4 linked regions of the Homo sapiens genome follow. The protein of the gene in region 3 interacts with the protein of the main gene of each other region in a biochemical or structural test. Each region holds a gene or a part of one and is shown on either strand. Other genes may lie near its edges.

The links.
Region 1: the proteins of RAB4A (region 3) and KIF3B form a complex in vitro, tested with the Homo sapiens proteins (one study listed by BioGRID).
Region 2: the proteins of RAB4A (region 3) and HACE1 form a complex in vitro, tested with the Homo sapiens proteins (one study listed by BioGRID).
Region 4: the proteins of RAB4A (region 3) and GDI2 form a complex in vitro, tested with the Homo sapiens proteins (one study listed by BioGRID).

The regions. Positions count from the first base shown.
Region 1 is NC_000020.11:32,280,634-32,287,668, forward strand, and holds part of KIF3B (kinesin-like protein KIF3B), read left to right. Parts: exon of another isoform or gene 1-1,240; intron 1,241-7,035. UniProt on the Homo sapiens protein: Microtubule-based molecular motor that transport intracellular cargos, such as vesicles, organelles and protein complexes. Uses ATP hydrolysis to generate force to bind and move along the microtubule. Plays a role in cilia formation.
Region 2 is NC_000006.12:104,856,918-104,863,871, reverse strand, and holds the start of HACE1 (E3 ubiquitin-protein ligase HACE1), read left to right. Parts: upstream 1-3,952; 5' UTR 3,953-4,229; coding exon 4,230-4,305; intron 4,306-4,325; exon of another isoform or gene 4,326-4,493; intron 4,494-6,954. UniProt on the Homo sapiens protein: E3 ubiquitin-protein ligase involved in Golgi membrane fusion and regulation of small GTPases. Acts as a regulator of Golgi membrane dynamics during the cell cycle: recruited to Golgi membrane by Rab proteins and regulates postmitotic Golgi membrane fusion.
Region 3 is NC_000001.11:229,266,702-229,274,140, forward strand, and holds the start of RAB4A (ras-related protein Rab-4A), read left to right. Parts: upstream 1-4,409; 5' UTR 4,410-4,638; coding exon 4,639-4,669; intron 4,670-7,439. UniProt on the Homo sapiens protein: The small GTPases Rab are key regulators of intracellular membrane trafficking, from the formation of transport vesicles to their fusion with membranes.
Region 4 is NC_000010.11:5,764,723-5,768,469, reverse strand, and holds the end of GDI2 (rab GDP dissociation inhibitor beta), read left to right. Parts: intron 1-85; coding exon 86-257; intron 258-1,831; coding exon 1,832-1,976; intron 1,977-2,174; coding exon 2,175-2,229; intron 2,230-2,317; coding exon 2,318-2,464; 3' UTR 2,465-3,247; downstream 3,248-3,747. UniProt on the Homo sapiens protein: GDP-dissociation inhibitor preventing the GDP to GTP exchange of most Rab proteins. By keeping these small GTPases in their inactive GDP-bound form regulates intracellular membrane trafficking.

The sequences.
Region 1 (7,035 bases), on a different chromosome or scaffold from region 3:
GAACCGGGGAGGTGGAACTTGCAGTGAGCCAAGATTGCGCCACTGCACTCCAGCCTGGGCGACAGAGCAAGACTCCGTCTCAAAAAAAAAAAAAAAAAAAAAAAAAAGAAAGAAAGATGAAAGCTGATGGTAGGACGTTAGGTTTAGTAGCTCAACATCCAATTCAGTAAATATTTGCTAAATCCCCTTATGCTAGGCACATGGAGGATGTGGAGGTCAATCCCATCTCCATATCCTTCGAGGAACTCAGAGCTTAATTTGCAAATTACTGCATTTGACATCTTTAAATGAATTCATATCTTATGTTTGCCTTGGCTGCAGAGTGAAGCCACTGATTCTAATCTGTTTTGTTGTGTCCCTAGACTTCTGTTAGGTGCCTGGATTAGAAACCTCAGATTGCTTCCTAAGCCTTTTCATCCATTAATTCGCAAGTCCCTGAGAAAGACCCCGTCTTATGTAACAGAGAGTAGCAATACTTGACAATAACAATAAGGTGCCTAATGGCTTACAAAAATGCCTACACTTGCTTACACATGCTTTTACTCATTTAATCTTATCTGTGTCCCTTCAAGGAAGGTAAGGTGCAGATTAGGATCTCTGTTTTATAGTCGAGGAATCTGAATGGAAGCCAAGAAGCCATGATGCTATTGAGTGGCCCATTTCACGTTGAAATCCAGTCTTCTGTCTTCAAATTCAGTGTACTTACCACTATCCTGCCCGGATTGTATTTATTCAGTATTTCCTGAGCACCTAGAATGTGTCAGTTCTGTTTTAGCCTGGAGATATCATGGTAGAAAGGTACAGAGTCCCTTGCTCTCATGCAGCTTATATTCTACTGGCAGCAAACAGAAAAATACAGCAGTAAATGAACAAGGGAATTTGGATGAGGAATAAGTGCTGGGGTGAAATCCCATCTCTATTAAAAATACAAAACTTAGCTGGGTGTGGTGGCACGTGCCTGTAGTCCCAGCTATTCAGGAGGCTGAGGCACAAGAATTGCTTGAACCTGGGAAGCAGAGGCTGCAGTAAGCCGAGGTTGCGCCATTGCACTCCAGCCTGGGCAACAGAGCGAGACTCCATCTCAAAAAGAAAAAAAACCCAACAAACAAAAAGAAAAAGAAAAGGCCTTGCTAGGATGGTGACGTTTTTGCTGAGATTTGCTCCCAGGGACGGGCCAGCCATTTGAAGACATGTCAGAAGGAAGAGCAAGGGTAAAGGCTGTGAGGTGGCAACAAGCTTGGTAAGTTCCAGAAACTGCAAGAAGGCTTACAATGGCAGGGACAGGTGAGTCAAAGGCAGAGTGGGGAGGTGGGTGGATGTAGGGGATGGAAGTGGTAGGGAGCGCTCAGATCATACAGGACCTTGTCTGCTAGAGTAATGAGTTGGGATTTTGTTCTAAAAGCTGTGGAAATCATTGGAGGTTCTGGAGAAGGGACGTGGCATGATCTATTTTTGTTTTTTAAAAAAATCACTCTGGCCTCTTTGTGGCAGTGAATTTTAGAGGGCATAGGAGTGGCAGCCAGGAGGCTAGTTAAGAGGTTAGGTGAGAGAAGATAGTGGCTTTCTAGGTTGGTGGCAGTGGAGATGGTAAGAGGACGGATTGGGGATGTGTTTCGGAGGTAGAACCAGCAGGATGGCGGGATGAGGGTGAGAGAATAAGGATGACTCCTGGGTTTTTGGCCTGAGCAATTAAGTAGATGTTAGAGATGCCATCTGCCTCTGAAATGATGAAAGGACTTTTTGGTAAGGGGCCCTATGAGGAAGAATTATTCATAGTTTATTTTGAACCCTGTAGAGGAGAGGCACAAGGTATAAGCATCATACTTTATAGTCTGTGGGGAGGAAATCCCAGATTATGCTGGCAGAAGCTAGCCAGGTGCAACTGATTGAAGCTTGACGTTCTTACTGTGAACCAAAAAAAAAAGTCCTGCTTTTCTACAGTCTGGCTTTTTGCCAGCCTGTGGAGCGGCAGGTGTGGGCTTTGCCAGGGCAGTACCCATCTGTCTTTCTGTCTTGTGCTGTTGGCATTGCAGTGCTGACTCGGGATCTTGGCTGAGGGAGCCTGGCCAGCTCTGGAAGAGGGAGCGGAATCACTAGTGAAGTTCACTTGGTGTGCCAAATGGCCACATTCTCCCTGCCAAAGTGGTTCTTTCCTGGTCACCAAATGACAGTTCTGAAGTTTCAGAGCTTTTGACTTCAGAATCCCTGGAAAACCTATTGTACTCTACCAGAATTCCTAGAGGATTCTTGAATCTCTTCTGAGCAAGGGAATTCGAGCTTCATTGTTATGTATTCCAGTAACTGTACTTGTAAATCTGGGCATTACAGGGTTGTACATTCAACATTGTGAATAGTAAAACTAATAGTCTTATCACTGCCACTTGTTTATTTAATTAAATTTAATAAATTTATTCATTTTGGAGACAGGGACTCCCTCTGTCACCCAGGTTGGAATGCAGTGGTGTGATCATGGCTCCCCCACAGCCTTGAACTCCTGGGCTCAAGTGATCCTTCTACCTCAGTCTCTTGAGTGGCTGGGACCGCAGGCATGTACTGTCGTGCCTGGCTAATTTAAAAAAAAATGTTTTGGGGACGGGTGTGGTGGCTTATGCCTGTAATCCCAGCACTTTGGGAGGCTGAGGTGTGCAGATCACGAGGTCAGGAGTTTGAGACCAGCCTGACCAACATGGTGAAACCCCTTCTTTACTAAGAATACAAAAATTAGCTGGGCGTGGTGGTGCGCACCTGTAATCCCAGCTACTCAGGAGGCTGAGGCAGGAGAATCGCTTGAACCCGGGAGGTGGTGGTTGCAGTGAGCTGAGATCGCACCACTGCACTCCAGCCTGGGCGACAGAGTGAGACTCCGTCTCAAAAAAAAAAAAAATTCTGTAGATGGCTAGGCATGGTGACTCACACCTGTAATCTCAGCACTTTGGGAGGCTGAGGCACGTGGATCACCTGAGATCAGGAGTTTAAGACCAGCCTGGCCAACATGGGGAAACCCCATCTCTACTGAAAATACAAAAATTAGTCGGGTGTGGTGGTGCATGCTTGTAGTCCCAGCTACTTCGGAGGCTGAGGCGGGAGAATCGCTTGAACCTAGGAAGCGGAGGTTGCAGTGAGCTGAGATTGTACCACTTCACTCCAGCCTGGGTGACAGAGTGAGACTCCATCTCAAAAAAAAGAAATTTGTAGAGACGGGTCTTACTGTATTGTCCAGGCGTCTTGGCCACAAGTGATCCACTCACCTTGGCCTCTCAAAGTGCTGGGATTACAGGCATGAGCCGCTAATTTTTTTAGAAAACTTGGTCTCACTCTGTTGCCCAGGCTGGAGTGCAGTGGTGCAGTCATAGCTCATTGTAACCTCCAACTCCTGGGCTCAAGCGATCCTCCCACGTCAGCCATCCAAGTAGCTGAGACTACAGGTGCATGCCACTACACCCAGCTAATTAAAAAAAAAAAATTTTTGTTTTTAATTTTTATTTTTTGTAGAGATGGGGTCTTGCTATGTTACAGGCTAGTCTCAAACTCCTGGCTTCAAGCAATCTTCCTGCCTCAGCCTCCCAAAGTGCTGGGATTACAGGCATGAGCCACAGCACCTGGCCACCACTGCTATTTGTATAACTTTGCAGTTTAGAACGCTCTTTCCTGTGCATTCTCATTTACTAATTGTCAATCAGTTGAGATCATCTGGACTACATATTATCCCTGGTTTACAAATGAAGACATTGTGGTGTGGAGAGGTCACTTGTTTTTGTCAGTAATATTGAGCATTTTCTAGGTGCTGAGTTAGGGAGATCCTTGCTGCTCAAAGTGTGTTCTCTGTGACAGATGTACCATGTCCCCAGGACCTTGTCAGAAATGCAGAATCTAGGCTGGGTGTAGTGGCTCACGCTTGTAATCCCAGCACTTTGGGAGGTCAAGGCAGGAGGATCACTGGAGGCCAGGAGTCCGAGACCAACCTGGGCAAAACAGTGAGACCTCCTCTGTATTTTTAAAAACAGAAGAAGAAGAAGAAAACAACAACAATAACAAGGCCCAGATCTAATAAATCAGAGCCTGCCTTTTACCAAGATCCCGGATGTTTCCTGTGCACATTAAAAGTTTGAGATGCTCTCACCTAGGTAATCAGTAGCAAAACTAAGACTTACCAATGATAATGACAATGAAGGTAATAGTCGTAGCTAAGATACATTAGCCAAGCACTGTTGTAAGCACTTTACACATGTTGTTTCATTTAGATTTAGACCTCACACCAATCCTGTAACACAGATTTCCAGAAGAGGAAAGTAGAGGCTCAGAAAAGTTCAGTAACTTCCTGACATCTGCTGACTCCAAGTCTATTGCTCTTTCTACCATTCATTCGCGTGTTCATCTGTTTTTCAGGTGGGCAGTGACCACATCTTAGCTGTCTTGTCAAAGGCCTTTCTCTTCCATACCTGCATAACTAATTTTAAATGATGACCAAAAAAAAAAAAAAAAACAGTGACTTGAAAGAATGTTTGAGAAAATCAAGGGAAAAACTTCTGAGCTAGATGGGTGTCAGTTACTTGACTGATGAGGCCGCAAACAGATATCTCATTTGGTCAGATAAGCTACCTCTCACACTTCTTAGTGATCTAACTTCAGGGTCCGAACAGCTGAAGCAGGTAGGAACTGTGAGCTTGTATTCTGAGTCATTTAGCTCTAAGCTGTTTCTTGATTCTGGTGATAAATATCTACACTGGGTGAGAAGATAGTGGATAAAGTCCCATATAACACCTGCCAACTAATTGTTAAAACATTCCATCTCACTGTGCCTCAGTTTTCTCTCTCTGCCCTGTGGGCTCATTATTTTCCTTTCAACACCTCCTGTCTTTCTAGACTCTCAGAAAGATATATTGGTCGAGGACTATGCCATTATAGGAAATTTTGACCTGAAAGGATGGTGGGAACTGGGTAAAGGCAGGATTCTATCAATTCTGCTACTTGCTGTGTGACTTGGAGCAAGTGACTCAACCTCTCTAGGCCTCTGTCTTGCGCATACATATATATATGTAAAATAAAGATATAGGACAGTTCTTCCCAAAGCCCTTCCAGCCCTGCCCACAAGACTGAACCTTGAGTTGGGTGATATTTTGTTCTTTCTTGGTGACTTCATACTGAGCTTTCTCCCAGACCTTTCGGGTGTGGCTTTTAGAGCGTATTTCTTGGCAGTCAGAGAGCATTACAATCAGCTCATCTTATCAGCATCACACATCTGCACAGCAGCTTGGGATGTTCATGTTTAAGGTTCAGTTAATCATGGTGACACATTGTGTCTTCTCACTTTGTCACACTGATTGCGGACATTGAGCTCTTCACACAGGAAGATCTATCTTTAGCATGCTGATTTATTTAACTCATAATTTGCATTAGAGAGGGAACCAGTGATAATCATGGTGGGTGTGGCTTTTATTTTTAAAGTTTTTGGCAAGACATTTGCAGCACTTGCATTTTGTCATGCTTGAATATAGTCTATAAATGGAAATGGGTTCAAGTGAAATAGAAATTGCCATAGATTATTGGGAGCTTGGGACTTAACCACTCTGGAGTCCTTCATATCACCTTCAGCAGTGCTTTCAGGAAGGGCTTGCTTGGCCTTTTGTGTGTGACATAAATTAAACAGAAACTAAAAGCTCATAGCACAATCTCTAGCAGCTTAGCAGACTACAGTAATCATTACTTTGTAACACATTTCAGAACATAAGCAAAAAATCTAGCTGGCAAATCATAAAAGATTCCATCTAGGTAAGATAAAATATCAGTTCAAGTTACCTAAAGATAACCACAAGAAGATAGTCCTTGGTGGAAGTAGTTACTGGTTTTGCAAGATCTGCAATAATAAGTTAGACTCTGGCCTAAGAAATATATGTAATGTTTTTCCTTATTCTTCAATTGTCAGCCTTTTAAAAATATATAATTTTTTCCGATTATAAAAATAATAAACTTCCATTGAGTAAAAAAATGAGGAAAATACTGAACAGATTAAATAAGGCTGACTTTAAGATCCACCACTGAGAAATAACTACTGTTAACATTTTACTGTCCATATACAAATGTATTCCTAAATACATTTTATCTCATAGGCTTGCAGTTCTCACCTGTTTCCTCCATTGTTGTTATTTAGGCCATTTTCAACATTTAAACATTATGAGTAATGCTTCAGAGAACATCTTAATGATGATTATTTTGTGTAAACCTTTGTCTGCACTGCTGATGATTTCTTTAAACTAGGTCCTTTAATGTTAAAAATTTTAAATTACAAAGGCAACCCCCCTTAAATAATGTTTTTAACATGGCAGTGTTAACCTAAAGCTGAAAAGACAGACAGAATTACAATTTGGTTGGGGAATTTACCCATGGTGATGGTATCCTAACTCAGGTTTTAGCTTACTTGACTACTTGCAAGTATATTTTTAGAAAGTTGTATTCAAAGCATATTTCCCATTTTCTATTTGGAAATGTTTGCTTAACATTATTTCATAACCATTTTTCCATATTTTTGTACTTATTTATTTCAATTTTTGTTTCATTTTATTTTTGTAGAAACAGGGTCTCACTATGTTGCTCAGGCTGGTCTCAAACTCCTAGGCTCAAGCGATCCTCCTGCCTTGGCCTCCCAAAGTGCTCAGATTACAAGTGTGAGCCACCAGGCCCAATCTATTTTTTTTATTTGTTTATTTTTGAGATAGGGTGTCGCTCCGTTGCCCAGGCTGGAATACTGTGGCATGATCATAGCTCACCGTAACCTCCAGCTCCTGGGCTCAAGTGGTCCTTCCACCTCAGCTTCCTAAGCAGCCAGGGCCACAGGTGCGTGCCACCACTTGTGGCTAATTTTTAAATTTTTCATGGAGGCAGGATCTCACTATGTTGCTCAGGCTGGTCTCAACTCCTGGCCTCAAGCAATGCTCCTGACTCAGCCTCCCAAAGTGCTGAGACTACAAGTGTGAGCCACTACGCCTTGCTGTGTTTTTGTGTTTAGTAGTTATTACTACATGTTAGTAGTTTAGTAGT
Region 2 (6,954 bases), on a different chromosome or scaffold from region 3:
CTCCATTTCTTGGGATTTTCAACCTACCCTACCCTGGCTTTGGCCATGGTCTTCCTAGTTGCCACCTCAGTGACACTGCTCTGAAGAAGGGCACTCGGATGCGTTGTATTTTTGTAACTGTAATATATGTGCTTTAAAAGGATGTGTATTCCCTCTTCATTAGTAGTGAAGTGAATGTTCACACGTGCCCTTTAATGAGACTTGTAGTTGAAGTTTTTTAATCTTCTGTATCTTTAACTGTCTTTTTCTGCTAGCTTTATTCGTTTCAGAGCGAAGGGTGTGAAAAATCTAGCACCATGGTGTGGAACTTATACTTGTAATTCTGTCAAGTGTAGCTTTATTTTTAGTCTATGTCTTTAGGTGTAGGTTCAGGACTAGTATAAACTTTCTGGTAACTCTCTTTGACTCTAATAATGTTTTTTCCTTTAAAATTTATTTTGCTGATATTAATATTGTTCATGATAGTTAATTTTCTGTGCCAACTTGGAGGGTGTTTTTGGAAGAGATGAACATTTAAATTGGTTAAAGCAGATTGCTCTCCATAATATGGGTGGGCTTCATCCAATCAGCTGAAGGCCTGAATAGAAGAAACAGCAAGAGGGAATTTTTCAGCAGACTGCCTCCAGACTTCATCTGTCTTACTAGCTGCCCTGGCCTTTGACTGGAATGGCATCATCAGGTCTCTTGGGTATTGAGACCGCTGGTCCAAACTGTAGATTTTGGATTTGCTAGCTTCCATAATCACGTGAGTCAATTTCTGATAATAAATCTCTTTCTCTCTCCATATATATACACACATTCTACTGGTTCTGTTTCTCTAGAGAACCCTGATATATTTTTATATCACATTTATTTGGCTAATATTTTCTATGGTATCCCTTTTTTCCATTTCCTTTTGGAAATGGTGGTCCCTTAGAAACAGCAAATAGCTGTTTTATTTGATCTTTTCAGATGTAAGAAATAAATCAGATCAAGTACAAATTGCGATCCAGGATATTTTGAGTCAGTGTTGAGAAGCTTGCCTTACTGCATTTCCCGTACAGTTTATAAAGCGTAAAGATGAAGTACTTTGGCCTTTTTTCATGATTGTCTGTTATACATTAATTTTTTTAGGGAAACTATTTAAGCTGATTTGTCTATAGCTGATTGGCTTAGTTTCACTGAATCATGCTGACAAGGATATAAACCTTGCGTTTTGTGTTTATTATTACAGATGGTGTTTTGGGGAAATGAGGATGATGAGTTTTGGTTTGTGGTTATACACAGTTGGACTTGGGTATATCTAAACTGTGGCCTCCATTTTTATTTTTCTTTAACACACTATCTAAGACCTCTATGTTTTAGAGTAAACATTGAGTTTACTCTGTTTATATTTTCTGTGACCATGGATATATTTAGATTTATTTCTACTGCTACTTTATGTTTTGTTTTTATGACCATTTTTCTTTGCTTCCCACCCATTTCCTGCCTTTTGTTGAACAGATTGTTTTTCTCTTCTCTTTCCCTTAATGCTTGGGAATCTTCAATAAAACCAATTTCCAGGAAGAAAAAAATACCAGATATACAAAAAAGAAAGTTGAAACTGTCTGGGCCACAGAAGAACCTGGGTTATCATTAGTGAAAAACTCTACGCTTTTGTTAATGGAACTTATGATACAAAGTGCCCTTTTGAAACTTCCACTTGATGTTTTTGGTGTTGGTGACAGGTGAGAAAATCTACTCTTTAGCTAATAATAATCTATAAGAAGCTGTTTAGCTGTTTTGGTGTTCTCCTGGGCAGCTTTCTTCTTGGTGTGATAAGTTGCCCTGTCTAATACGGTAACCACAAGGCACATACAGCTATTTAACTTAATTAGTTTCATTACTTATACTTTAATACAAATTTAAAATTCAGTTGCACCAGCCACATTTCAAGCACCCAGTAACCCCATTTGGTTAGTGGATGCTATTTTGGACATTGCAGATTATAGAATATTTCTATCATTGCAGAAAGTTCTGTTGGACAGGAGGTGATAAGCTGATAGTAGTACTGCAGCTTTATACATTTTGAAGCAGAGCTATTGGGAGACGGCATCATATTGCAGAATTTGGAACTGACAATTCACATCAGCATTACCTGTTCCATTATCTTCTGCTCCTGTGGTGAACAGTGACCAGCATGAGATGCAATGCCCACCATGGAGGCTGCTGGGGGCTCCTACCCCTGCCCACAAACTCCAGGCTTGGTCCTCACAGGACGTTGGAGGTAATTTATATGGAGCAACAGCCTAGAGAGCAATGGTGATAACAGCAGCTGAGAGAAGCTGAGGGGCCAACTTCTGTACAGCAGTGGGAATCCTGACTTTTTGAATAGCATAAGAGGCCAAGCAAGACTGGAACATTTTTAGTTGAAGCCAGGTTGCAAATGGTTGAGCCTGGGCTAGACTGGTCCATAACGTCTGGTATTTCTTTCTTCCTTTCCTTTTTTTTTGAGACAGGGTCTCGCTCTGTCACCCAGGCTGGAGTGCAATGGCAGGATCTCAGCTCACTGCAGCCTCTGTCTCTCGGGTTCAAGCGATTCTCCTGCCTAAGCCTCCCGAGTAGCTGGGATTTCAGAGGCACACCACCACGCCCGGCTAATTTTTGTATATACATATTTTTAGTAGAGACAGGGTTTTACCATGTTGGCCAGGCTGGTCTCAAACTCCTGACCTCAAGTGATCCGCCTGCCTTGGCCTCACAAAGTGCTGGGATTACAGGCATGAGCCACTGCGCCCAGCCTCTGGTATTCTTTTGAAACTTTGACCTCTACCACCTTGTTGCCAGACTGGTTTAGGTATCATCTGATTAGGTGAAGATTACAGAGGTCTTCCCCGTGCCTGTGGCACCACTGGCACAAATGGTCACTAGCTGGAACTGATTTAGGACGGCACTGGCAGGGAAAACACATGCCAACCACCATCTGCCCCTTCATATCCTGAATGGGCAGGTGAGACTCTCTTTCACTTGGCCAGCCAACATACATCATCAACGTACATGTGCCCATTCATTTCAGGAACAGCTTTGTCTCTTTGAGGAAGAGAAGCTGAAAAAGACAAGCCTTTTGTTTCTCCCTCACTCCAGCATCATCTTGGCACTGGTAATATATCCAAGATATATTGGTGTTAGCCAGGCTCACATTTACCCCTTTGATTGGGTTAATTTTTTGAAGTTCCAACTTCTGTTGTTTCAAGTGTTCAACTTCTGTGCAGAGCTTATGAATATGATTTTTCGCCACTGAGTTCATTTCTTCCACAATGTAGGTATCCAAATTTTTTGTAACTTACAAAGTCAAATCCTTTGGATTTCCCACTAGGCTGTGTCATCACATAGACACTTTAGCATTGTACCAAATAAATGAAAAAATTTTTTCAGGTTGTCATCATTCATATCTTCCCCAGAGCTTTAACTTTGTGCTAGGTGCCTTGTTAAGTACAGGGATACAACACAGTTCAAGATTAAATGTCCCTGCCCTCATAAAGCCGCCCGGCAGGAAAAACAACTAATTAAGCTATTGTCAAGTTATTTACAATGAAGACAAAAGCACAATATGCTTTTGGATTTGTTTGATTTTATTACTCTTTAAGTTTGACATATGAAAATACCATACTTAAAACAGTTCATGTAGGGTACCTGAAACAAAGGCACTAATACAGTACTAGAAAGGTGGTGACGGATTTAAGAACAATTGTGCCAATTTCTAATCTGTTTTATAGTAAAGTTATAGAATTGGAGGAAACTGCTCCTGTACAACTTTGGAGGAGGGTAGGAGGAGCAGGGCGTGAGAATGCCTTTCCAGAAGCTTAGGAGTACGCCCAGTCGCTGCGTGGCTTCCCGCATACTCAGCCCTGCGCCCGCGTTGGCGTGGCCTGGGCGCCCCCAACGTGACTCCGCCCAGGGCGCTCCGTTCTGCCAGCTGGAAACTACAGTTCCCAGAAGGCCACGCGAGCCCGGGAGGGACGCGGCGGCGGGGGCTGCAGGAAAGGCGCGAGCAGAGGCGGCGGCGGGTGTACTGTAGGTGGTCGGTCCGGCAGCAGCCCGGCCCCCGGACGCAGGACGTGGCCCCAGGCAGCCCTCGCAGCTCAGTGCTCTAGCCGGGGCAAGCCCGCGTCTCCGCCTGCTGGACGGGCCCAGGCGAGATGTAGGGCTCTGGGCGCGGAGGCCGCCGGTGGGGCGGCTGATCGCGGAGGATCGCGGAGGGCGCGCCGAGGATGGAGAGAGCGATGGAGCAACTCAACCGCCTGACGCGCTCGCTGCGCCGCGCGCGCACCGTGGAGTTGCCCGAGGGTGAGCCGGGTCGCGGGGCCAGGCTGGCCGCGGGGCTGGGGGCGGCCAGTGGGGCAGGAGCTCCGGCCGCGTCAAGGTCGGGTGGAAAAACTAACTGAAAGCTGAGAAAACGCCCACTTTTACTTTCCAGAGCTGAGAGGCGGCCCCGGGCCCCGAACTCCCCTGGCCCGACGCTCCCACCCCGGCAGGTGGGAGTTTTCGGGAGGAAACTGGGTTGGTGGGGGTTCCGCTGCTGGGAGGAGCGAGACAAAGGTCTCGCAACGTCTGTCGATTAGGGGTCTTGGCAAAGGGGCAGGAATACCAGCCGGAGGCCCGAGACCCGGAGTCAGAAAACATCATAATTGCGGGTCATTTAACAGTAGCTGGGGATAGAGATGATCCAAAGATACTGTTTACTTTAAGCTGCATCGGGGGGCCAGGCGGGCTTTTATTTTTGTTATTTTTTAAAATGTGGGGCACTGCCTTGTTTTGATAACAGGCAAACAAAGGGTTGTCAAACATCAAACAGGTACTCTTAAAGTACTGTATGGGTAAACACAATATATTTTTCTTTAATATGCATGCCTGCCTTCATTCTTCATTTATTCATCAGACTAGTATTGAGTGGGCTAGCTGGTAACTAGGACGCATCTGCAAAGAGGAATAAGGCATGGTCCCTGAGGATCAGGACTTTTAGTTCAGCGTGCCAGGGTTCCCTCAGGACAGGTAAAACTCTGCTAATAACAAGGAGAGAAAATAAGCAGTTTTGTTTGCAGCGTCAGGAATTCAGACATTTTAGTGGTGATGGGAGACAGCAGTGCTGCTTCTAAGAAGCTTTTGGCTCTTTATGCCCAAGTGAGAGAAGGGTTGGGAGGAGGTTGTAGCTGGTGAATAGCTTTTTTCTTAATTGTAGTAGTTTATCTTACTTTTTCAAAACTCTCTTTGAATTGCTGCTGGGTGGTTTGTAGGATAGGGAAGGAGACCTTGGCAGACGGTCATGAAAGAAATGTGGGATTGGGTACTTTGGCGATAATTTTCTTTCCTTTCTTTTATAGAGATGAGGTCTCACTATGTTCCCCAGGCTGGTCTTGAACTCCTGGGCTCAAGTGATCCGCACCCTGCTCCCCCCAAAGTGTTGGGATTACAGATGTGAGCCACCGCGCCTGGCCTGGGGATAATCTTCTTGAAAAAATGGTCTCTAGTCTCTATTTAGAATTCAGATTTTGGTAACTAGATTCTAGCTTCAACTTTTTCTATATTTTCTTTCCAACTTCCACCTTTGAATCCATTTCTTAAGTGCTACTCTTACTTATTTTTCGTAGTCGAATTATTGGTATAGCTTTATGAAGACTACATGTATAATTTATATTGTCTAGTTTGAATCCCGATATTTTTTACATAAATGTGATTTAGAAGACTTTGATAATGTTACTTGGTTTTAAAAGTAATATAGTTTCATTGTAGAAAATTTGGAAAATAAAGAAAAATAGAAAAAAATATGTCATTTCACCATCCAGTTATAAACAGTGTTACCATTGTTATTTCTTTTTCCCTCCCTAACAAGTTAAAATCATGTTGCATATAGTCTTTTATTTTGTGTTTAGAAAACATCCTTTTTTTTTTTTTTTTTTGAGACGGAGTCTCACTCTGTCGCCCAGGCTGGAGTGCAGTGGCGCCATCTCGACTCACTGCAAGCTCTGCCTCCGGGGTTCACGCTATTCTCCTGCCTCAGCCTTCCCAGTAGTTGGGACTACAGGCCCCTGCCACCAGGCCCGGCTAATTTTTTGTATTTTTAGTAGAGACGGGGTTTCACCGTGTTAGCTAGGATGGTCTCGATCGCCTGACCTCGTGATCTGCCCGCCTCGGCCTCCCAAAGTGCTGGGGGATTACAGGCGTGAGCCACCGTGCCCCGCCCCAAATGTTTTTTTTTTTTTGTATTCTTCAATAGGCTTAATGACTTCAGAATTTCATAGGATGCATGTAACAAATGTTGAATCTAAATACTGTTTTTAAACTGATTTTATGAGAAACAGCTTTGTATTTAAGACATAGTCTGCCTCTAAATACTTCCTTAGGGTTAATTCTTACAAGAAGAATATCTACAATACATTTCTAAGGCTCAACATATCAGTTTCTCAACTTACTCCTTGGAAAGTTCCACCAGCAGTCCGAGAGTGCCCAGAAACTAGAGTATTATTAGTAAAAGTAAAACTTTTCCACATAGGCAAAAATGGCATCGTTTGCATTTGCTTTTCTTTGATTATAATGTTCATTTTGTTCCTTGAATTTAATTTATCTTTGTCTCTAAGCTCTGATGAGTCTTTGAATTCTCTGAGCTTGGCTCTTTAAAGTATATCATACATATAGGAATATATATATATATATGTAAATATATATGTAAATATATATGTAAATAAATATATATATGTAAATATATATATAACATTCCTACTGATACAAATCCACATTTGTGCTTACATTTTAAGAGCTGAATGGAAACTCTGAGATCTCTCTAAATTTAGAAAATAATCAGATTTTTTTTGCTTTGTTAGAATTCAGTAATCAATAAGCATCTAATTACAACAAACTATTAAACTTGTAAACTTTTTAGTCAGCTTGTACTCTAAAATTAATTTTGTTGCAAAGGTTGAAACTATAGATGTTTGATAA
Region 3 (7,439 bases):
CAGACAAAAGGGAAATGAGACCATGGAAATCTAATCTATACAAGAGAATAAGGAGTCTTAGATATGGTAACTATGTGAGTAAATATAAAACACTTTTTTCTTATTGTTTAAATCTATTGAAAAGAATTGGCTGAAAATGCAGTATATATGTACAAAGTATTGAATAGTATTCAGTCTTAAACAGGAAGGAAATTCTGACACATTCTACAATGTTACAGATGAATCTTGAGGACATTATGCTAAGTGAAATACGACAGTGAGGAAAAGACAAATACTGTATGACTCCATTTATATGAGGTACTGTACCTAGAGAAGCCAATTCCTAGACAGGAAGTAAAATGGTGGTTGCCAGGCACTGTGGGGAGAAGTGAATGGGGAGTTGTTGTTAAACAGGTACAGAGTTTCAGGTTTGCAACATGAAGCGTTCTAGAGATGGATGGTGGTGATGGTTGCACAACAATGGGAATATATTTAATGCCACTGTACATTTCAAGATGGCTGAGTTGCTACATTTTATGTCTATTTTACCACAATTAAAAGGAAAAGAGAGACAGAGAATTAGTAGCTTATTAAGTAAAAACAATAACAATGTATGTGGGTGTACAACATATGTAGAAGTACAACATCCCCAGCACAGATGCTGGGGGAGGATGGAAGCAAATGGTTGTCAGTTTCTTATACTCTGTATAAAGTAGTGTATTATCACTTGGAGGTGGACTGTGATGAAGACCTATACTATCAACCCCAAAACCACCACTAAACCTCACAAGAAGTTATTCTTCCTAAGTGACAAATGAGATAAAACAATCACAAAAATGCCTCTGTCCACTGAAAAGGCCTAGAAATAGCGGTCCCCTGGAGCAGCAAGCACAAGCGTACATATATATTAAAAATTGTCAAAATGTACACTTTAAATATGTGCAGGCCAGGTGCGGTGGCTCACGCCTGTAATCCCAGCACTTTGGGAGGCTGCCCAGCACTTTGGGAGGCTGAGGCAGGCGGATTACCTGAGGTCAGGAGTTTGAGACCAGCACAGCCAACAAGGCGAAACCCCGTCTCTACTAAAAATACAAAAATTAGCCAGGTGTGGTGGCGCGTGGCTGTAATCCCAGCTACTCAGAAGTCTGAGGCAGGAGAATCACTTGAACCCGGGAGGCAGAGGTCATAGTGAGCTGAGATCACGCCACTGCATTCCAGCCTGTGCAACAAAGCAAGACTACATCTCAAAAAATAAAATAAAATAAATACATACGTATGTGCAGTTATGCCTATACTTCAATAAAATTGTTTCAAATAAAAGCACGATGAGCTGCCTGGACAGGTGAAAATTCCAGTGGTAGTCATAATGTCTTTCCATAGACTTTCTCTTCTCCTTTCTTTCAGGGACATAACAATATTGCATTTCCTGTCCTCTTTGAAATTAAGTGTTGCCACATGACTTGCTTTGGCCCATGAAATGTAAATAGAAGTTCTTATAGCAATTCCTGGTAAGTGCTTCTCTAACTAATGCACAATCAGTCCTAATGCATAGCCACTCCTACCTGAGTGATTGTGGAGATGCATTTAGATAAAACACACTCGGTCAGCCTGGGTCTAGGAGGGCCCATGAGCAAGTCTCTGCTCGTGGGAGTGGACAGGTAGTCTGAGCGAGGAACTTTGCTGCGTAAGTCATAAATGGGTTGAGAGATCTGCATTACTGCAGTTAATCTAGCCCATTCTGACTGAATATTCCCTAGCAACAGAGGTATCTGATCATGGACATAGTTTTGACAGTGGAAGGTAAAGTGGCCCAGTGACCTCTGAGGTGTCTACTTTCTTGAAGATGTGAGTTATATGTCATAGTCTCCACCAGCCTGGGTGTGGAATTGAGCTTCCATTTTCAAGTCTCCACTTGTATGTCTGGAATTTGGCTCCTTCTCAAGGTAACACCCAGGGATTGCTGAGTTCCCAAGTGCTCAGACACAAGTCCACTCATTTTCTTCAATTCCAGTTACCAAAGAAAGTCACCATTCCACCGAGGCTGTGACCAGTGCCCTCCACCAGGCCTAGCTCCAAGAATCTCATGCATCAAGCCCCAGGGCTCCTCACGTTGGGCATTAAATGTAAGGTCATGCCACATTCTTTAACATTGTCAGGAAGCAGGAAGGAAAGTACCAGATACTTGAAGGACCCACTGACCTGGAAAAAAGTGGGATCTAGTTTCAGCTTGAAAAAATCCTTCTTCATAATTACATTTCCCTTAGGCAAATCTCTAACATGCCTAGGCTTTTGTATATCTGTTTTTACTGCGTCACAAACCTCCCCCAAAGAGAAGGGAGACGATAACTGGAGAAAACCACAAATTAATCTTCCAATATTTTTTTCTTCCATATAATCAGCAGTGCCTCAGAATCAAAGCAGTCTCTAAAAATATTTTGAAGAAATTTATTTTCTTGGATCTTCAAAGATCCAAAGTTACTGAGATGCAAAGAATCTTCCACAGTATCATCCAAGGATACTGAAGGGCTCCTTCAAACCTCGCCCTTGTATATTTCTTCTTCCAGTTGTGATACTGCAGTTACATTTGCAAACCAAATGATCCCTTTGGGTGGTTTTTCCAAAACAAATCGTCTTTCCCAAAGGCCTACCTAAGTCTTCATTTTCCACAAAGTAGAAAACTGCCCACAGCTTTGAAATGGCAGCATAATTTGTATTTCTACCACCTTGTCCAGGTTTCAGGGATCTCTGGTCCAGTTTCAGTCAATAATGCTAACTATCACTGCAGCTCACTGACTTCTTTCTTGTACATAGCAGTTTTTCGCAGGAAGAAAACAAATCTAACGAATAGGAATAACTTCAGGTGATGCTGTTTTCTTCCCGCTTCCTGGGATCACTGTCTTTCCTCTGAAATGGTTTTAATCAGAACCAATCTGTTATACTCAGGAGCCTAAATCAAACACGACATGCAGAGAGACAAACAAGAAAGCAACAAATGATCTGAGCCACTGAACAAGAAATATATATAAAACAGTTTTAGGAATTACAGCTGTCACAACTTTTCACCATGGGGCCTTCTCTGTGATTTAGAAAAAACTGCATTTATTTGTTATTAGGATCGGAGACAAGAGAAAAATACCGACCCAAATAGCCACTGGGGAAGAGGGAAGCTCTGATGCCAATTTATGTGGAGGATGGAGCCAAACTGACTCACACACACACACACAAAAGTATGTACTGGCATTTTCCACACAGTCCAGGTCACTTGGGAGCTTAGCCAAGGATATTTTGAGCATTCGACTACCTATTGTGAACAAGGTTGGGAACTATGAGGCGCTATGTGGCCCTGATCAAGCTCAGATGGGCCAAATCCTCAACCAAAATTCTCTTTCCCATAAATGTTTATCTCTACATTTCCCACAGAAGGGGATTCTAACTCAGTTTTGCTTCTGAAACCAAACTATCCAAGGCCAGGTGAGATGACTCATGCCTGTAATCCCAGCAATTTGGGAGGCCAAGGAGGGAGGATGCTTGAACTCAGGAGTTCAAGACCAGCCTGGGCAACATAACAAGACCCCATCTCTACAAAAAATTTAAAAATTGGCGCGGTGTGGTCGTGTGAGCCCCTAGCCCCAGCTACTCAGGAGGCTGAGGCAGGAGAATCGGTTGGGCTGGGCTGACAGTGCCAGACCCTGTTAAAAAATAAAAATTAAAAAAACTCCTAAATTTGGAAACACATCCCCAGCTGAGGGCCGGGAGATACTTCTCAACCGTAATCCAGAACCCTCTAAAATGGGATGTGGAGAGGCTGCAGCCTGTAGTCTTGCGATGACCTTTTAGCACCTGGGCATCTTGCGCTTCTGTCATTCCGCCCACACCCGCTCAGCTCCATCCAAGAGGGCCCGGCAGTTTGGAGTGAAAGCTTAGCTTCCCAACGGGTAAATGAACCTGCCTCCCATTCACAGGGCGGCCTCTGGCTGGACACCTGGGGCCTACTGCCTCCTTGTTACACATTAACCAAGTTCTGGCCTCCATCGTAACAGCGTCAGGGAAGTTTTTTCCTGGCTGACAGCCGCAGATGATGACCGAAGACAACGTCTTAACTGAGACGGGCCAATTTGGCAAATGGACTGCTTTCCTCCCCAGTGCGGGCACCTTCCTCCTCTGTCCGGCAACTGGACCCCACTGTCCCCAGCCCTCTGTCACCCCCAAACCTGCCCACCGCCCGCCTCTACCCGACCCTCCCTCAGGGAAATCGGGACTCAGCCCCCAACGCCCCCACCTGCCGCTCTGCCCACCTCAGCGCACACCGCCAGAGCGCCCAGCCCGCGCACGTGCTTCCGGCGCGCGCCGAAGTCCTCACGCGCCCCGCCCCGGCCTCCCCGTGCGCACGCGCGAACGCGGGGTGGGCCGGGCCTCGCGTAGCCCATCTCCTCTTCCTCCTCGCGGTCGCGGCCGGACGGAGGGTGGAGGGCCCTGCGCCTGCGCGGAGCTGGAGTCCGGCTGGGCCGCAGCCGCTGGGAGACCGGCGGTTGCCGTGGGGACCGGTCGGGCCCCTCCCTCCTCCGGTCCCCCGCCCCAGGTCCTTCCCCACCGAGACGCGCCGGCGGACCGCGGGCGAGTGCAGCCGGTGACCCGGCGAGAGGCGGCGCCGCTCCCAAGATGTCGCAGACGGCCATGTCCGAAACCTACGGTACGAGGCCCGGGCTGGCGGGGCGCGCGGGTCGGGCCGCGGGGGGCGTCGGTGGCGCGGGGCCGGGCCTGGGCTGCGGGGGTCTTGAGGGTGGCGGTGGCGCCGGCCGGAGCCGGGGGACGGATCTCGGAGGTGTCTGGGCTTGGGACCGGGATGGGGGACGCGGGCCGCTGGGGGCTCGGGTGGGGTAGCGGGTGCGCGGGGCGCGGGGGCGCTGTGCACAGCGCATTGGCGTGATCCGCCTTTTCAAGTTTCCTCTTGCTCTTTCTCTGCTCTTGCACTCTTAGCGCTTTTCCCCTCTCAGTCTAATGTAAATAACTGAAGGTTTGAAAAGCCAGCTTGATGTTCGGTTTCAGCTGCGATATTATCCCCAGCGAGCCTGTGAAGGGCTTAGGGCGACGCCTGTGTTCCTCAAATACTTCAGTTTGACCTTTCCTGGTTTGGAATTCCTTGCTTTACATTGGGATTACAGTGAGGAGTTATTAATAGGCTAATTCATTCATCTCTTCCTCCGGAGACCTCTTGCTTCGTTTATTTCTCCCTCCCTCTCAGTGTTTTTTAGCCTTTTCTGGGTTGCATTTTGGCTATTTATAAACATGTCTTGTCTCCTTCTTAAGACCGTAAGCACCTTGGAAGCAAAGCCCTGGCTGTTTAATCTTTGTTTCCCCTGCAGCACCCAGACCTGGAGGTGCTTGACAAATACTGTTTTGAATAAGCGAAAGCTTTCCCAGTGCATATGCTGTGTGCTTTTTTTTTTTTCTCCCCTTTTTTGGCCTTGCGTGGTAAGAATAAACAACTTGTACTTTGTATCAGAGTTGAATATTAATAGATGTTTACCAGTCCCTAATCACTCTTTCAGATGTATGTATTCTCAGATTAAGACTTTGATTTGGAGTTTTACAGTCCCAGAGAGAGGCTCAAGTTCAAAATTACATACCTCAAGCCAAATTAGTCCTGTCTCCATCTGTCCTGGCATGCTGCTTCCTTCTCTGCAACAAATACTGTGGAATGGCATTAGGGAAGCGAGCACCGTGCTGGGAGGGCTGTACATCCTGCAGAAACACAGCAGACACGGCTCTGGTCTCATGGAGCGTAGTCTATTGAGGGAATGCAGTATTAATCCAATTGTGATACTAATGAGTGAATAATTAAAAACCAGGCAAGAGTTCTGAAGGAGTGTGGTCCGTGAAAGTGTGTTAGAAAGAAAGATGACCCAGACAGGGGTGTCAGGGAGGCATTAACCAGGCAGCACGCAGAACATCTCAGGCCTGTGGGAAGGGTAACTCAAGAAGGGTGTGTTTTGAGTACCACGCTGGAGAGGTGGATGAGGAGGCAGAGAGGAGAGGGTCTTGAGGAAGGCGTCAGTTTGTCTTGTAAGAAAAAATGGGAACTTTTGGAAGGGCTTCCATGCTGGGGTCACAGTGCATTTGGTCCACCTTCAGTGAGTGACTCCTGTGACTGGTACTGCCCTGTTCTTGGTGACAAAGGGGCATGACATCTGTTCCTAGAAGGCGTAGGAAATCCTCCAGTAAGTCGATGCCTTCATCAGGACAAGTGTTTGCAAATGTTTCTGCAAATGGCAGTGGTCTGGTTCTTCCTGTAGAGAACCACAGTCAGAAATGTTGTAAGGAAAACATGGTCTTTAGCAATTTTTGGTTACATCTTTGCACTTCTTTATTTTCAAGTGCTCTTTAGCCCAGGCTTAGTTTCTTTAACCTGAGTAAGGAGCACGGAGCACTAGGGGAAGGGTGGAATGTCCAAATAAGAAAAGCAAGTGGGGGTCATGAATCAGTAAGAAAGGATTGGAAGAGTTCAGGAGATAGAGCTTTTATGTTTCATTTTTCGTATACGCATGATAACAACTGATAAAATAGAGCTTATCTTTGGCATCTCCACTTCAGACACAGTTAACTGAACTTTTGAGCTTCACAGATTGATTACATTCTGATCATAAGGCTTTGACCATTAGTATTCTTATTTCATGGTAACTTCCAAGTATGTTTTTACTTTGCAACTCTGAATTGAATCTTTTCTTCTAATAGAGGAAATTAATCGAAAACTAGTAGAAACTAATAAATAGAAAATGAGGCCAGAGGTGATGGCTCACGCCTGTAATCCCAGCACTTTGGAAGGCCGAGTTGGGCGGATCACTTGAGCTCAGGAGTTCAATACCAGCCTGGCCAACATGGCGAAACCCCAGCCCTATTAAAAATACAAAAAATTACCTGGGCATGGTGGTACGCTTGTAGTCCCGGCTACTTGGGAGGCTGAGGCATGAGAATTGCTTGAACCCAGGAGGTGAAGTTTACAGTGAGCCAAGATTGTGCCACTGCACTCCATCCTGGGCAACAGAGTGAGACTCTGTCTCAAAAAAAGAAAATGAGTTTTAGAAGGAGCAAGCAGGACAGTTGAAGTTTGCCAAGCTGAAGTAAAAGTCACCTAGAACCAAGTCCTAGGCTGTCACTTTGACGTATCAGTGGCCATATTTATACAGCATTGTTCCTTAAAAGTGAAACAGTCAGGCTCTCTTCTGGACATTTGCCTCTGAGCTGGTGAAGGAATGTTTGCCTAACCTTTAAACTCCTTTGTACTCTGTGCTTATTTGCTCTTCTGTAAAAGGAGGCTCTGTGTAGCTTGACAGAGAGATGAGGAATGAAATGTACTGGGTTTTTGTTTCCCTTTTTTTTTTTTTTTTTTTTTGAGACAGGACCTCGCTCTGTCACCCATGCTGGAGTGCAGTGACACAATCACGGCTCACTGCCACCTCCAT
Region 4 (3,747 bases), on a different chromosome or scaffold from region 3:
TACTAAGTCTTCCAAACTATGAACATGGGATGTGTTTCCCTATATCCTTGTCCGCTTCAGTGTCTTCTTAAATGCTTTGTTATAGATTGCTCGCTGTAAGCAGCTCATCTGTGACCCCAGCTACGTAAAAGATCGGGTAGAAAAAGTGGGCCAGGTGATCAGAGTTATTTGCATCCTCAGCCACCCCATCAAGAACACCAATGATGCCAACTCCTGCCAGATCATTATTCCACAGAACCAAGTCAATCGAAAGTCAGGTGAGGTTTGAAGACCAGCAGATGTTGGTAGAATTTTGTAAGATATAATTTGCTTTGTGTTTTATCCCAAATTCCTAATTTTGTATGCTGTATTAGTGAACAGACCTTGGTTTACATATGGGGGAAAAAAATCTTTGTACCTCCTCCTGCTCCGGCAGCATTGTGTCAACGCGGACAGATTCAACTCGGAGCCAGCCTTGGACTTGTGTCCATCACCTGTAGAATGAACAGACTGGGCTTGGTGAACCCTGCGTCTCCCAGCTCTAACTAACAGTAGGTTCCTGTGGAGGTTTATGCTTAATAGTTAACTGACCCGAGTATATTCTTGAGCTAATGACATAGCTGCTTCTGTGTCCTTATTTGTAATCCTAGTACCTACATTTGATTCTAGCAGTGTCCACCTTTCATTTCTGTGATCAGGACATGGCTCTAAAATTGCAAGTCCTAACTTATTTGTCTTAGCCAGTTGTTTGTAACCCTTCGATGTTCCCATTTTCCTTTCAACTAGAAGCCCCAAATCTTTTTATTTATCTAAAATTCAGCTTAAAAAGGGTAATCAGGCTTTATGGGACAGGTAAGAGCTATCTGTATAATGATTTTTTTTCCCCCATATAAGAAATGAAATCATGGGAGGCCAAGGCAGGAGGCTTGCTTGAGGCCAGGGGTTCAAGACCAGCCTGGGTAACATAGTGAGAGCTCGTCTCTACAAAAACAAAAAACAAACAAACAAAAATGGCTAGGTGTGGTGGCACACACCTGTAGTCCTAGCTACTTGGGAGGCTGCGGTGGGAGAGGATCACTTGAGCTCAGGAGTTTGAGGTTACTGTAAGCTGTGATTGCATCCCTGTCTCCAACCTGGGTGACAGAGCCAGACTGTTAAAACACAAAAAAAAACCAATCACAAAAGATGATCTGTAGAACAAAGGGACTGGACTTAATCTTCCACAAGGTTCCCAGGCGGGTCCTGGGTCCTTGCAAGTCTGAAAAGAATAAAGGAGGTCCCAGAGTTTTTTTTTTTTGGCCTTTAAATGCTCTCCTATCCAAATGATTTTCTATCCTGGAAATGACACAGTTAACTGGATGAGTGGTATACAGACCAAGTCTAATCGAGAATTCTATCGTTATGCCAACTCAAAAGTGGTTTATGTGGATTCTGCAGTTTTACATTACTGTAATAAGTAAATGAGGACGTCAGTACTAAGTACATCCTTTCTTAGCCATTCAGAACCTTTCTAAATGCAAGGTCCAGAATGGAAGAATCTCCCAGAATAGTTAATATGGTTTGGCAGGTTTTTTAGTTAGGTATGACAGAGCTGTTAAGAGATCTCATTCCAAACTTCAGCAGTTCGCTACCACTTCAATTCTTAATCTCTAGTAGGTTAAAAGAAATTCCTATTGTTAAATATCTGTGTACTTTACATCCAACTCTGTCACCATTTAGAACTTAAGTGTAGAAGATCTTGCCTATTGAGAGTAATTTTAACTCACACCTCATGACATATGGGTGATACCTGAGTATGTTGGGTCCCAGATGGAGACACTTGAGGCAGTGAGCTGGTATCATTTGTTTCTAGATATCTACGTCTGCATGATCTCCTTTGCGCACAATGTAGCAGCACAAGGGAAGTACATTGCTATAGTTAGTACAACTGTGGAAACCAAGGAGCCTGAGAAGGAAATCAGACCAGCTTTGGAGCTCTTGGAACCAATTGAACAGAAGTGAGTTGTGTTCTTTTATATCTGCCGAGATGCAAACTGAGGCCTTTGATTGTGGCTCCATGGTGGGACGAATGTGAGGGCAAGGCAGGTAGCTGCTGGCTGCTCTGTGGGATTCATCTGTACCTCTCAGTTGACCTCAGGCAGAGCCATGGTCAGGTGTGGGACCAGCTCACCTGACTGAATTCTCTCTCCCTCCAGATTTGTTAGCATCAGTGACCTCCTGGTACCAAAAGACTTGGGAACAGAAAGCCAGGTGAGTATGGAAGTGTGAAAGGATATGGGCAGGTTTCACTGGAAGACATCCCTCCATGGTCTTAAGTCTTCGTAATTTTTGTTTTCAGATCTTTATTTCCCGCACATATGATGCCACCACTCATTTTGAGACAACGTGTGATGACATTAAAAACATCTATAAGAGGATGACAGGATCAGAGTTTGACTTTGAGGAAATGAAGCGCAAGAAGAATGACATCTATGGGGAAGACTAACAGCAGTACATGTTATTATGTAATTAGGACACATTTAAAATTTGGCAAATAATGCATATAATGAAATCAATATTGTAAGGCCTGCTTTTGTAATGAAAATGGAGAGAATGAAGAGCGCTGTGCCAGTAAATACTCCCCTTCACCTTTCTAATTATTAACTTGTTTTCATGGAGTGGCTATTCAGCATTGGCAGTTACCACATTCTGTTCAATTTAACCAAACTGGCTTTTTTTTTTTCTAGTGAAGTTAAACAAACATTGGGATACCGACACAGACAACTTGAGACAGTTTTTTTAATCTTTTAATCAGTGTAGCTATGTGCTGCTGCTGCTCAAGAGCTGGATCCATACAGGTTGTGTGTCATCTGTCCTCTTGAGGTTCAGGAGATTCTAAATTGAATATTCCACGGTTTGGGACAGCATCCGGAAGTTTTCCCTATGACTTTATATTTTGTATTATGTCAAATGTTATGGCAGGGCCCAAATAGCATAGCCACAAGTTTGGTTTATGTGGGCATAAAATTCTAACCAAACCCCAGACATAGGGAGTCATTTGGAGAAAGCCTGTATGTGGTGTTTTAACCTAATAAAGTTGATGAGAGAGAAGGGGAGAGGAAGCGAACATAAAGCGGGTCAAGTGTAGTGCATCTTTTGTATCTCAGGCGTGGCTTCTTCAGTGGACCAAGCTGCAATGCAGTATTGACTTGACAGAGCCTCTACTTCTGTCTCAAAATGGCTCCAAATGATTTCTGTACTGCAAAATAAAGCCAAATTCTGGAAACTACTGCCCGGTGTTGGTTTGTGTGTCCTGATTGCAAGGGTCACAGCTGCCGTGCTTCCTTTGGTAGCACTGGAGTCAATGCCAGTCAGAATGCTCAGCAGCGGAAAGCGTGGGTGTCTTCTGATCTGGAAGGATCACAGCAGGTCCTGTCGTCTGGCTTCCCTGTGAGTAGACCTCGAGTTTTATTCTTGACACAGTACCATTACTAGACCTATCATCTTTGTGCAGAAAAAATAGTGTTTAATGATTTTGCTTGTAGCAGCAGTTATAAGGGAGTAAGTGAACTGTCAGGTAGAGTAGGTGCTTTAGTAAATAATTTTTGTGTAGTTGAAATGATAAAGTGTTTACATATAAGGCCCTTTCCCCTGACAGTGATGAGCCTCACGGCAGATGCTGTTGTTTACCACAGATAAACACTGACTCTTCAGAGTATGAAGGAGACAGACTAAGGTAGATGATGTGTTAAAGGAACTAGGGTGGTGATTTAGATTGTTATTCATATT